Linked DNA regions of Homo sapiens: region 2 is linked to region 1. A link means that fine-mapping ties the variant in region 1 to the expression of a gene that starts in the linked region. Tissue or cell type: whole blood. Region 1 holds a variant in brackets; the other region holds the start of a gene. All regions are shown on one strand. Distances are between the middles of the regions.

What was found. PIP is the estimated chance that this variant, and not a neighbour inherited with it, causes the effect.
Region 2: it holds the start of FNDC11, and the variant in region 1 is fine-mapped to the expression of FNDC11 in whole blood (INTERVAL, PIP 0.96).

The regions. Positions count from the first base shown.
Region 1 is chr20:63,522,452-63,529,381 of GRCh38, reverse strand. It overlaps PTK6 (protein tyrosine kinase 6), which reads left to right. Exons shown (of 8, transcript NM_005975.4): 8 at 1-1,381. Among named protein-coding and RNA genes, the nearest start is that of PPDPF, 5.2 kb to the right of the region's middle. RefSeq lists a silencer at 1-246. The variant T/G (reference allele first, on the strand shown) is at 3,089.
Region 2 is chr20:63,551,063-63,557,671 of GRCh38, reverse strand. FNDC11 (fibronectin type III domain containing 11) reads right to left here and starts at 3,513. Exons shown (of 2, transcript NM_001319152.2): 1 at 3,466-3,513; 2 at 977-2,018. The coding sequence starts at 2,008. The coding sequence ends at 1,052. RefSeq lists silencers at 3,422-3,671, 3,942-4,081, 4,102-4,251, 4,272-4,331 and enhancers at 4,022-4,316, 4,612-4,701.

The DNA of each region.
Region 1 (6,930 bases):
GCGTGTGCTCCTCTCCTTACTCCATCGTGTGTGCCTTGGGTCTCAGCTGCTGACACGCAGCCTGCTCTGGAGCCTGCAGATGAGATCCGGGAGACTGACACGAAGCCAGCAGAGGTCAGAGGGGACTCTGACCACAGCCCGCTCTCTGGCTGTCTGTCTGCAGTGCCCGGCTGAGGGTGGGAGGCAAACACGCCTTGTTCCTGCTCTTCCCAGTTCAGCTTGGTGGGAGAAAGTCATTCGCGTGGCTCGGGACGCTCATGTAAATTTGGTTTTGGTGCTCAAGGGTTCTTTCCTCCCAGGGGCAGGTGTTTCTTTCCTGTTTGTCTTGTGTCTTGAGAGCTTGGCCTTATGACCAGTGAGAACTCTCTCCCTGGTCTCTGCCAGCCCAAGCATCACTGCCCGAGGCGCCAGCTCAGTTTCACCGTCCACGTCCACAAGGGGCTTTTCCCACCTTCACCTTTGTCGCTGGGTCAGTGCTGGAAAGCGCCCCTCACTCCTGCGCTGACAAGGGCCCTTCTCTACTGTCTGTGGGGTGGTTCCGGGCTGGGGGGGCTGCCTCCTTTGCACCTGATTTTGAAGGTGTCTCTTTCATCCATGGTTAAGTCATAAAAAGCTTATTGGTTTTGGTTTTGACTCACCTGAAAGTTTTTTTGGTTTAAAAGAAGAATAGGCGGGGCACGGTGGCTCATGCCTGTAATCCCAGCACTTTGGGAGGCTGAGGCAGGTGGATCACGAGGTCAGGAGATCGACACCATCCTGGCTAACACGGTGAAACCCCGTCTCTACTAAAAAATACAAAAAATTAGCTGGGTGTGGTGGTGGGGGTGGGCGCCTGTAGTCCCAGCTACGTGGGAGGCTGAGGCAGCAGACTGGTGTGAACCCGGGAGGTGGAGCTTGCAGTGAGCCGAGATCGCGCCACTGCACTCCAGCCTGGGCGACAGAGCGAGACTCCATCTCAAAAAAAAAAAAAAAAAAAAGAAAGAAAGAAAAATAATTTTGGGAGTTTCTGGAAAGGTACTAGGATTTCTCAAAAGGATTTGTCTTCTGCCTTGTGAAAGACAGATGTCAGACTAATCAGGCTTATCCGATGTGCTACATGAGATGGAAAGCGTGTGAAATAGTAAGTCACACTAAGTCTTCTGGAGGTTCTATTTACGGGTTTGGTTTTGATATGAATGTTGCAGAAACTCTATAAAATTCCTAGAAATCTGATACGTTATCCTATGATATATATCCTATCTCACATGCTATTCCTAGAAATCTGGTGCAATGTTATCAGTCATAATTTTGGTTATTACATTAAAATGCTGCATGCCACAGAAATAACCAAGTTTCCTTGCCAACCGTGTCACGAATATAATAAACTCTCATCAGATCCTGAGCCATGGCTATCTTAAGTCTTCGGTCATTCACAGTTATTATCTTACTTTGATTTTTTCTGAAAGCTTTGCAATCAGCTAGTCCCAAATTGTTTATTCTTCAAAGAGATTCCTGGGAAGGATTCTGACAGGTGCTCTGGAGCACAGGTTTCTGGTTCAGGTCATAGCCTTGGATTGGGTGCAAATTTCCAGAACTCGAAGGAGGGACCTGGCAGGTCCATGAAAGTTCTGTCCCAGGATCAACCAGAACAAGAATTAATGACATGGGAATGAATGAACTGACGAGGATGTTTACTGTTTAATGACTTTTGTCTGAAGCATTACGGTTCTTTAATATTTTGTTTTCCAGATGTAAGAAAACGTTTTTTGTTTCTGTTTTTGTTTTTGAAGACAGGGTCTTGCTCTGTCACCCAGGCTGGAGCGCAGTGGCGTGACCACAGCTCATTGCAGCCTTGAATTCCCAGGCTCAAGTGATCCTCCCGCCTCAGCCTCCTGAATAGTTGGGACTACAGGAATGCACCACCACACCTGGCTAATTTTAAATTTTTTTTTTTTTAGGAGATTCAGGGTCTTGCTATGTTGCCCAGGCTGGTCTCGAACTCCTGGGCTCTAGCAATCCTCCTGCCTCGGGACTACAGGCCTGAGCTGCTGCGCCCAGCCTGGGCACGAAAGCCGTCTGTACGAGAGTTGCTGGGGAAATTTCTCTGAAGTCTGTATCAAGTGGGGCAGCTTCAGCTTACAGGGCTTTGGGAAAAGAGCAGTTTTAATTTTCAGTGACTCCATGAGGAATGGTGGAAGAAAAAATTGGAAAGAGTGGTTTGGTGAGCTGTAGGCAAATATTGGAGGAAACTGAAGTTCAGGACCCGGTCCGGACCACAGGTGGGCGACAAAACCTCCAGACAGCAAACCGGGCTAGAGTCTAATAGTGGGGGCACGAGTTTTATTTTGAAACATAATTTTTCTCTCTACAGTCAACAAATTTCTTTTTCTTTTTTTTTTTTTGAGATAGAGTTTCGCTCTTATTGCACAGGCTGGAGTGCAATGGCTTGATCTCGGCTCACGGCAACCTCTGCCTCCCGGGTTCAAGTGATTCTCCTGCCTCAGCCTCCCGAGTAGCTGGGATTACAGGCATGCGCCACCACGCCCAGCTAATTTTTGTACTTTCAGTAGAGATGGGGTTTCTTCACGTTGGTCAGGTTGGTCTCGAACTCCCGACCTCAGGTGATCCACCCACCTCGGCCTCCCAAAATGCTGGGATTACAGGTGTGAGCCACCGCACCCAGCCAACAAATTTCCTTCTTCCTTTTTTTTTTTGAGATGGAGTCTCGCTCTGTCGCCCAGGCTGGAGTGCAATGGCGCAATATTGGCTCACTGCAACCTCTGCCTCTCGGGTTCAAGTGATTCTCCTGCCTCAGCCTCCCAAGTCTCTGGGATTACAGGTGCCTGCTACCACGCCCGACTAATTTTTGTATTTTTAGTAGAGATAGGGTTTTGCCATGTTGGCCAGGCTGGTCTCGAACTCCTGACCTCAGGTGATCCGCCCACCTCGGCTTCCCAAAGTGCTGGGATTACAGGTGTGAGCCACCGTGACCGGCTGCAAATTAACGCATTTCTATCAAAGATAATAAAAGTAGGATTGTTTTCAAATTAACACATTTCTATCAAAGATAATAAAAGATTGATTTGATTGCAGAGTAAGTTTGGCCTCA[T/G]TAAACCTGGTGTGGTTATTTATGTAAGTGGAACAAGAATAGTGATTAACCACATAGGTTCTTCCTCATTTTTGTTTTCCAACAGGGCCTCACCCTGTCACCGAGGCTGGAGTGCAGTGGTACCATCATGGTTCACTGCTGCCTTGACCTCCTGGGCTCAAGCCACCTTCCAGCCCCACCCTCCAGAGTAGCTGGGACGACAGGCATGTGACACCACACCTGGCTAATTTATTTGTATTTTAGTAGAGAGGGAGCCCCACTATGTTGCCCAGGCCAGTCCTGAACTCCTGGGCTCAAGCAAACCTCCCATCTCAGGCTCCCAAAGTGCTGGGATTATAGGTACACCTGGACACGTGGGCTCTTTTAAAATTTGCTTTACTGGAACTTTTTTTTTTTTTTTTCCTGAGACGGAGTCTTGCTCTGTCGCCCAGGCTGGAGTGCAGTGGCGCGATCTCGGCTCACTGCAAGCTCCGTCTCCCGGGTTCATGCCATTCTTCTGCCTCAGCCTCCCGCATAGCTGGGACTACAGGCACCCGCCACCATGCCCGGCTAATTTTTTTATTTTTAGTAGAGACGGGGTTTCACCGTGTTAGCCAGGATGGTCTCGATCCCCTGACCTCGTGATCTGCCCACCGTGGCCTCCCAAAGTGCTGGGATTACAGGTGTGAGCCACTGTGCCTGGCCTACTGGAACTTTTTATAAGGAATCTGAGATTGGGCTTTTAAAAGCCTCTTGAGGCTAGGAAGCCATCGCAAAGACTTGCCATCAGACTTTGCCTGCAATAAGTACAGATTTAGGGGAATTCCTCTCTTCTTGAGGTCCCTAAGGTATCTTAAGATTCTGGGACCTGCCAGGAATTGACATTCTTTACTCATCTGTAAGGGAACCACGTATGTGAGGTACCAGGCCAGCTTTTTTCCAAGGGGCTTTATTGGACCATGCAGTCAACCCTAACTCCTTTAGTCGTATCTGAAAATAGGACATTCCAGTCAAAGCCTTGGTAATATAACCAATGTTTTCAATTGTGCCCTATTACAAGAACAGATTCTCATTGAACTTATGCAAACCCACTAACAGTTTCTGAATTCTGGGATTAGGGAGGAAGAAAAAGATAAATATTTCACCGTTGAGGCCATTCTAACCTCCCTGCCTTTCTTCCCTGAAGCAGGCCATAAAACCCAGGAAGGCCACTCCCAGACCCTCTCCCTGCAGACCCTCACGTGGTGTCCCGCCCCCTAACCAGAGGAAAGGGATGTCAGAGTCAAGTCGGGCCTTGATCACACCCTTCCATCCTCCGCTCACTCCTGCTCCGCTGTGAAATAGACCATTTCTTTGGTCTTTGTTTTGAAGGGGCCCACATCACATGGAACTCGCATTAAATGTTTGTATGCTTTTTCTTTTTTTTTTTTAAGACAGAGTCTTGCTCTCTGACGCCCAGGCTGGAGTGCAGTAGCGCAATCTTGGCTCACCGCAGCCTCCGCCTCCCGGGCTCAGGGGATCCTCCCATCTCAGCCTCCCCAGTAGCTGGGACTCCAGGCATGCACCGCCACGTCTGGCTAATTTTTTTGTTTTTGATAGAAACAGGGTTTTGCCGTGTTGGTTGCCATGTTGACCAAGCTGGACTTGAAGTCCCGGCTTCTAGTGATCCACCTGCCTCAGCCTCCCAAAGTGTTGGGAATATAGGCGTGAGCCACTGCGCCCAGTTTAATCTGTCTTTTGTTCAAGGGTCTGTTGGATACAGTGAGTTCTAGATTTCTCTTAGAGGACTCAGCATGTATGTTCAGTTCTTTGTTCTCCATTTAACTCGTGCATAGTTTCAGTAAACAACCTTTTCCACCAGTTTTAATCAATAGTTCACATCTGTTCCCCTGGTCACCTGCTCCGTCCTGACTCATCCTGGTACCTGTTTTTTTTTTTTTTTTTTTTTGAGATGGAGTCTCGCTCTGTTGCCCAGGCTGGAGTGCAGTGGTGCGATGTCCGCTCACTGCAAGCTCCGCCCCCCGGGTTCCTGCCATTCTCCTGCCTCAGCCTCCCGAGTAGCTGGGACTACAGGTGCCCGCCACCACGCCTGGCTAATTTTTTTTGTATTTTTAGTAGAGACGGGGTTTCACCACGTTTGCCAAGATGGTCTCGATCTCCTGACCTCATGATCCACCCGCCTCGGCCTCCCAAAGTGCTGGGATTACAGGCGTGAGCCATCGCACCCGGCCCCTGGTCACCTGCTCTGACCTAAGTCATCTTTAGCTACCTGTTCCTGTCCTTCCTGCCAAACTACTCACCCCACCACTCTGGGTCACACCCCTGCTCTCTTTAAAATAGTCAATCAGAATTACCTTAGAGTGTGCAGTCCAACCCCACCCAACAGGGGAATGACACAGCCGTAGAGGCTACCTGTGTCAGGAATAAGAACCCCTTCCCCTCCCTTGTCCAGGTGCGCTCTCACCATTGCTCCATCCGCGAGTCGCACCCTTCTATAGAAGTAAAAATTGCCTTGCTGAGAAAATTAATGTTTGAGTGCTATTTCTTTGTGGCACCGAGGAAGCATTTTGTTTCTAACAGGTCTCAGCCATGAAGCTTGTGATGGGTGAGGAAAAGATATGACTTCTCCCCCTACAGAGAATCTGATGAGGGTGCAGCTCCCAGGAACAGGCCATGGACACCCCCAGGGTTGTGAGGTCCTCCAGTCAAGGGGCCCCCTGACCCGAGGCAGGGGACGATGCCGCGGGCAGCCTGTGGCTCGGCTGCTCCCTACTCCCAGCTGCCCCTTCCAACAAGACACCAGCTCCCGGGCAGTGCCCCTCCCCCGCTGACTCCAAAAGCCAGGACAGCTTCTTTCCAAGCAGGGTGGACCCACCCTTGGTCCTGACCCCAAGCCCTCCAGCTCAGCCAAGGGCGGAGCCCCCCCAGGCCATGTGTGGTGGGGACCTGAGCGTGGCTGGGCTCTCCCTTCAACACCAACTCCTGCTACCCTCACAGCTGTGTGTACATGGAGGAGGGTCTCTGTGGGCTTCATCTGGACACTGCAAAAGGCTGCAGGGGGCTCAACTGCCATTAGGAGCAGCCTCCCACTCCTGGGTCCATCGGAGGCTCCCCCACCCAGCCTCAGCACTGACCACCGGCTTGGATGGCTGGGTGAGGCTGCCTCCACCCTGTGGACAGGACAAAGGCTCAGCCATCAGAGGCCACAAGCCAGATGCCTTCCCACCAGCTTCCCACCAACTAGTACAGCTATTTATAGTGCAGTGGAACAGGGTACCAGGCAGGGAGCACCCACTGATCCCCACCCCTCCCCAGAGTCCCTCCCCCACCACTGAACCCCACCCTTTCCCACCCCACGGAGGCCCCTCCTCTCACCATGTCCCTGGCCACACATCAAGTCTCCAGCTATCTCACTGACTCCCACCTGCTCACTAAGCTGCCTCTCAACAGAACTGAGTCAATCCCTGTAGGCTCCTGGCAGAGGTGTGGGGACACCACCCACCTTGGTTATGAAGGAGTCTACTAAGCTCACAGCCCATGCACTCCTGTGTGTGGACCCCCATCCCTGCCAGCCTGCAGCACTCCCGGACTCCAACACTCCATGCCTATACCAGGCCAGAATGATGCAGCCACCCTCACTTTAAGCTGGGCTGCCTGTGGCAGGAAGACCCCTCCACGGTGCCTGCAGCCCCTACCCCTCAGCCTGTCTTGGGGCAACACCCCTATGGGAGGCCCTTGGGAGACACCTACCAGCAGGAACCAGGTCCCTCCAGAGTGAGGGCTTCCCAGCTCACAGCCAGAGGCTACTCCCCGCCCCGCAGGCCCTCGGGTAAGGGGCCTGAATCCCTCAGAGGACCAGCCCT
Region 2 (6,609 bases), 28 kb before region 1:
TTGACTGTCCTGCTGGTCCCACTTTTAAAGCTGCTCCCCAGGACCCCCTGGCCGCTGTGGACTGGGGTCCCTCCGCACCTGGCCCATTTGTGGCTGCGTCCACAGGGGCTCCTGTGGCCTCCCAGAGCCAGCTCGGGGGTCAGATGGTCGCGGGGGCTATGGTCACTGTGGGAAAAGAGGTTCTGGGCATCTGTGGAGGGAGGGGTGGAGCATGGAGTCTCCAGGACTGTGGCCCCGTTGGTGTGCTGGACGGGCCCTGCCTTGAAGACCATGTCTATTCTTGGACCGTCATGAAATAAGAGTAGTTCTGCAATAGCTTGAGAAGTGCCTGCAGAGAGGATGAGAAGGCGCCTCTAGGAAGGGGGACTTGGGGACCTCACCAGCCTGCAGCCAGGGAAGGCTTCTGGGAGGAAGGGGCAGCTGCGGCCCTGAAGGTGAGCGGTGGGGGGACGCAGGGGCTGGACGCCTAGCAAAAGCAGCTGATCCTGGAGGAGAGAGGGAGCTCAGGGCCGGGAAGGCCCTTGAGGAACAAAAGGTGGGGCGGGGCATGGAGGGGCACGGCTGAGCTGCTCACAGCCAGGGATCCCCGGTGGTGCTGCTGCCTCCTCGGGCGGGCGTGCTGATGAGCACTCGAGGCTGGGCAGGGGATGGTGGGAGGCATCACGGCCTAGGAGTGTCATTCCCTGAGGGAGCCCCACAAGCCAGGGAGGTGGGTAAGGAAGGCCGGAGCCCGGTCACGGTGATGGGGGTGGTGAGGAGGGGCGGGGGCTAGGACCGCAGAGGCCCCGTGGAGCAGCTTTTGTCGTCGTCGTTGGACCCGTAGGTGTCAGGGGCTGGTACTTCTTGCTCCAGGCTCAGCTGTCTTGGGAGGTCCGGCCTGTGGCTCCCCCTGGGAAAGAGCAGGAGCAGAAGGCCTGGGGCTTGGCATGTTTTGAGCCAGGAAAAACACTGGTGGCTGCTGCCTTTAAAACATAAATAGGTTTGCTTCTTTAATTCCATATGTGCATTTACACTCTTCTTTATTAGTGGATAAATATTAGAAAATCATCTCTCAGACAGAGTGGCTGAGGGCGGGCCCCTCCAGGGGCTCCGGCTTGGTGTGCAGGGTGAGGCTGTCCCTCCAGGGCTCGTACACCAGCGTGGAGGTCTCGGCCCTCTTGATGGTGAACTTATAGGATCGGTTGGGCAGCAGGTTTCGGACGTCGAAGGTGCAGGCAGCCACGGGGATGACGCCACACTGGGCGCACTCCTGCTGTGTCCGCGGGTCCAGCAGCCTGAAGCGCAACTCATACTGCTCCGATGTGGCTGGCTGGATGGTGACGAACCAGCGCAGCCGGGCCCAGTCCTGGTGAGCCGCCGACGCCTTTCGGTCAAACACGACAGGCATCTTGGTGCTCAGCATGAGCCAGATGTGCGGGATCTTGGTGGCACTGACATCAGACACCAGGCGGTGCTTGACGTGTAGCCGCCCCGGCACCATCATGGTCAGGAAGCTGTCCATGACGGCCGACACGTCCGCCAGCCGCCGCTCCACCAGCGCCCAGTCGGCCAGGAAGGGCCGTGGGTCTGGCGACCGGAGCAGGGCATCCAGCTCAGCACGGCCATGGTCGAGCTGTTCCAACAGGTCCCCGAGCAGCAGGAGCTGGATCTTGGTCTGAGCTGTGCCCACCTTCTTCATGCGCTGGAACTTCCAGGGGTCGATGAGCTGGAACAAGGCGCTAGGCAGCACCAGCGGGTTCTGGTCGCCCAGGGCCAGGTGCTTGGGCAGGACCTCGATGTAGTAGGAGCACTTACGCAGCAGCTGCATGCGGGCGTGGTGGCGCTTGAGCAGGTGCGGACTCAGGTCCGAGGTCAGGAACTCACGCAGGGCATTGCGGCGCTCGGTGTAGGTCTTCCACGCCTCTGGTTCCAGCAGCTGCTGGTCATCTGCCTCCTCCTGGTCCAGGAAGGACTGGGGATTGCCCAGCTTCATCTTGTCCAGGCCCAGGCCTGCCACATGGGTGCTCATTATCCGGGAGCTGGGGGGAGGGCTGGGTGTCAGCTGCCAGGCAGGCTGGCCTCCCCTGGGCTGTGGCATGTTCGGGGGATGGATTCAGCCCACTGACCCCATGCTGGACCTCTGTCCTTCTTCGGGGGCACAACTCGATGGGAAGAGGCTGCCTGGAGGGCTGGATGGGCAGCCTACAGATCTGGACACAGTTTATACTGAGGGGCAAAAACCTCTACTGACAACCAGTGGCCTGTGGGACAGGACAGGGAAGAACTAGGACTGCGGACTTCTGGCCAGAACCGCCTGACCTGTGGCCTTGCAAGGGCCCCAGTTCCTAACCCTGCTGCTGAAAGGGGTTGCTGGCACCCCTCGGGGCCGTGGAGAGGGGACGGCGTGGTCCTAAGCAGCACAGGATCCCCCTCGGGGACATTCGCGGGCCATCCTCCCGCTCCGGTTCTCCCTGGGGACGCTCCACGCCTCACCGCAGTTGTAGGGCACAGAGACAGGCCTCACCAAAGACGAGGCCAGCTGGCTGGTCAGCATGGGAGGAGGGCGCCCAGGCCTGGGCCCGGAGGAGCAGCCCTCCTCCCACGCTGTGGGCCCTCGCTGTGGACCCGGGATCCTGTCCCTGGTGAGCTCATGGACTCCACAAGTGACACTCCATTTCCCAGATGGAGCCTGAGGCTAAGAAGCTTGGTTCTTGTTCTCATCCAGGGCTTGAGCCCAGTGCTGAGCCGAGTCTGACCCTCTGTCCGTGGGTGCACCGGCTGAGTGCAGCTGTGGCCCCAGGCTCTGCCGCAGCTCCCTGGAGAGCAAGCCGCACCCCTGGTTGCTGCCCCGGCTCCCAGCAACCCTGGAGATCTCAGGTTGTCACAGCCACTTGGGCCTTGGACGACCCACAAATGAGAGCTAAGCAGTTGCTGAGTTCCCCAGGGCCACACAGGTACGTGGTGAAGTCATATCTGCCCGGGAAGGGTTGCCCTTTTGGGCGTGAGGCAGATATGACTTCACGAGCGCACTCCTCGGGAATCCCTCGAGAACAGGCCCCTGGGGGCAGCAGGGAGTGTGTCTGGGGTGAGGTGCCAGCTGAGAGCAGGACCCCAGGACCCCAGGCCTAAGCCCTGCTCTTGCTGGAGGCTGGGGCGGATTTCACCGCTGGAGGGAAACCGTGCCTCTGTGACGTGTGAGGGATGTTTTCTAGTCTCCAGCAGCTGCCCAGGTGGAACACCCAGAGAGGCTGGTCGTGAACCCGGAAAGGTGGTTCTGAGCCCCTCGCTGCTTCCTACACGCCCCGGTCCCAGGCCCGCTTCCCTGAGACCACCAGGTGCCCGCACTCTACCCCCTCCACCACACTCCCCTTGGCTCCCCTGGCCCGGGCCCACCTCCCCGGCCGCTCTGCCTGCCCCTTACCTTCTCGAGACCCCCAGCCCTCCTCTCCCGGCCCCCGCCGCCGCCCCAGGACCGCGCCCACTTGCCCTGCCTCTGAAGCGGAGCCGCGCGCGGACTTCCCAGAGCCCAGCCTCCCTCCGCACTCCGCGGGTTGCCCTGGGGACCAGCGGCCTTTGTGACGCTGCGGCCCGGGGGCGGGGCGGGGGTGGGGACCCGGGACCCCGAGCCGAGTAATCTTCCATCCGCTTCGCTTCCTGGAGAGCCCCAGACTTCTGGGGGCCCGCGTCCCCGACTGAGGGGCCACGGCGGGTGGCTGGTCCAAGAGCCAGGCTCCAAGGGGGGTTCCCGTCCCGGAGCCCTTCCGCGGGCGCACCACTCCCCACGCACCCCCGGCTTCGGGCGGGGCGCAGGAGCCTCGGGTGACTGGGAGGGAGTTCCTGCTCAACCCCCCAGTCCGAGCGCACTCCTCGGGAATCCCTCGGAGGAATTTGGGAGAGAGGCAGTGGCCGGTGACCAGGCGGATGGACCACCCAGCGCCTGGACAGAGGAGAGGGGCGGCTTCCCCCGCCGCGGGCTCTGCCCAGCAAGGCCCCGCCCATTACAGATGCCACCCATTACAGGCTCCTCCCACCGCAGGCTCCCCCCACCGCAGGCTCCTCAACCACAGGCTCCTCCCACCATGGGCTCCCCCCTCCCCCGCAACGGCCCCTCCCATCATAGGCTCCTCCCACCGCGGGCTCCCCCCACCACGGCCCCTCCCACCACAGGCTCCTCCCAGAGCAGGCTCCTCCCACCGCGGGCTCCCCTACTACGGCCCCTCCCACCACAGGGTCTTCCCACCACAGGCTCCTCCCAGCGCAGGCTCCTCCCACCGCGGGCTCCCCCCACCACGGCCCCTCCCATCATAGGCTCCTCCCACTACAGGCTCCTCCCACTACAGGCTCCTCCCACCATGGGCTCCTTCCACCTGGGGCTGCCCAAGCTCAGGCACCGACCTGACTCTGGATAAATGGGGTCTCCATAGCTCCAGGGAGCCCCGCAGGGGAGCTCTGAGGCCATCTGGTCCCGTCTGTATCTGTTCAGTTGGGCTCAGGGCCTCTGGGATCCCCCCGTTCCCCCACAGCACACCCCAGCTAGCTGGGGGTCTCCTGGGGTCACAATCTTAGACACCCCAAGGTGCCCCTCCTTCACCTTCAGGAAGATGCTGGAGGAAGACACCCTTTCCATCCTCCTCATCTCCACCCCCACGGAGGTCAGTGCTGGGGCCTCTTCCAGGATGGGCGTCTTTGAGCCCCTACCAGGCTGTTCTGTAACTTGAGCCTCCCCCCTCCTCCCGGTGACCCCACCCTGGAAGAGCTTTCCCTTGGTGCATGGAGGCCCCAGGGGTTAGGCCTGGCAGGAAGTGGGTGGATGTGGGTGGTTTTTTTTTTGAGATAGCGTCTTGCTCTGTCACCCATGCGGCAGTCTTCACCCCCGGGGCTCAAGTGATCCTCCCACCTGGGTCTTTCTGATCCTTCCGGATTACAGGTGTGAGCCTTGCACCCAGTCCTGTTGGGTGCTGTTTCTGCCCTGCCCTCCCTGCCTGGGCTGGAACTCAATAAATGCCAGCTATTGTTATTGTTATTTAGGGCTCCAGGGGACAAAGCCGGGGTTGTTTGGAGAAGGGGGTGCTGTCTGACGCGGAGGGTTGGGAAGCAGTAGGAGTTAGACCCCTTACCCCCGGCCCTGCAGCCCACTGACGGAGAAGCGGGGTGGGGGCAGAGCAGCCTCCCCTTCTCTTTTGGGGCCAGGCAGGTCCTGGATGTCTCCCCTCTCCTGGGCTCCACCCTACCCCCTTTCTTTCAATTTCTGATTTCTAATCTAATTTTTTAAAGTTAAACTTTTGGCCAGGCTCGGTGGCGCAGGCCCATAACCTCAGCACTTTGAGAGGCCAAGGTGAGAGGATCCCTTGAGGCCAGAAGTTTGAGACCAGCCTCGGCAACACAGGGAGACCCCTGTCTCTACAAATAATTTGAAAAATTAGCTGGGTGTGGTGGTGTGCACCTGTGGTCTCAGCTACTTGGAAAGCTGAGGCCGGAGGATCACCTGAGCCTGGGAGGATGAGGCTGCAGTGAGCCAAGATGGTGCCACTGCACTCCAGCCTGGGTGACAGAGGGAGACCCTGTGTCTCTAAAAAGAATAATAATGGCTGGGCGCAGTGGCTCACGCCTATAATCCCAGCACTTCGGGAGGCTGAGGCAAGCAGATCACCTGAGGTCAGGAGTTCAAGACCAGCCTGGCCAACATAGTAAGACCCAGTCTCTACTAACAATACAAAAATTAGCTGGACGTGATCGAGACCATGGTGAAACCCCGTCTCTACTAAAAATACAAAACACTAGCTGGGAGTGGTGGCAGGCGCCTGTAGTCCCAGCTACTCGGGAGACTGAGGCAGGAGAATGGCGTGAACCTGGAAGGTGGAGCTTGCAGTGAGCCGAGATCACGCCACTGCACTCCAGCCTGGGCGACAGAGCGAGACTCTGTCTCAAAAAAAAAAAAAAAATTAGCTGGACGTGGTGGTGGGCGCCTGTAGTCCCAGCTACTCAGGAGGCTGAGGCAGGAGAATCGCTTGAACCCAGGAGGTGGAGGTTGCAGTGAGCCGAGATTGTGCCACTGCACTCCAGCCTGGGTGCAATAAGACAGAGGCCTGTCTCGAAAATAATAATAATAATAATAAAGTTAAACTTTTACTTTTAAGATAAGTATAGATTCATCTGCAGTTGTAAGAAGTAACACAGAGGTCCCGTTACCCTCTATCCAGCATCCCCAGTGGTAGCATCTTGCAGGACTGCAGTGCAGAATCACGCCAGGACCTTGACGTCGATACAGACGCAAGGCAGTGCCACCCCCACGGGACCCTGACATGTTCTTTACAGCCACGCTGCTCCCTCCCACCTCTCCCTAGCCCTGCAACCACTCATCTCTCCGGCTCTGTCTGGTCATTTCAAGAATGTCCTATCAGTGCAGGCTTTCAGTATGCAGCCTTGGGACTGGCTTCTTGCGCTCAGCATAGTCCCCTCTGTGCAGGGTCAACAGTCACTCCTGTTCACTGCTGGGCACCAGGGGCCAGTTTGTGCTCAGTCTTGCTCAACCCTGTTTGTGGCCACCAGGGCACGGGCAGTGAACACTTTGGATCTGTTGTCCCTGGTGGGGACAAGCTCTCTTCCCTGGGCCCTGAGGATGGTGAAGCC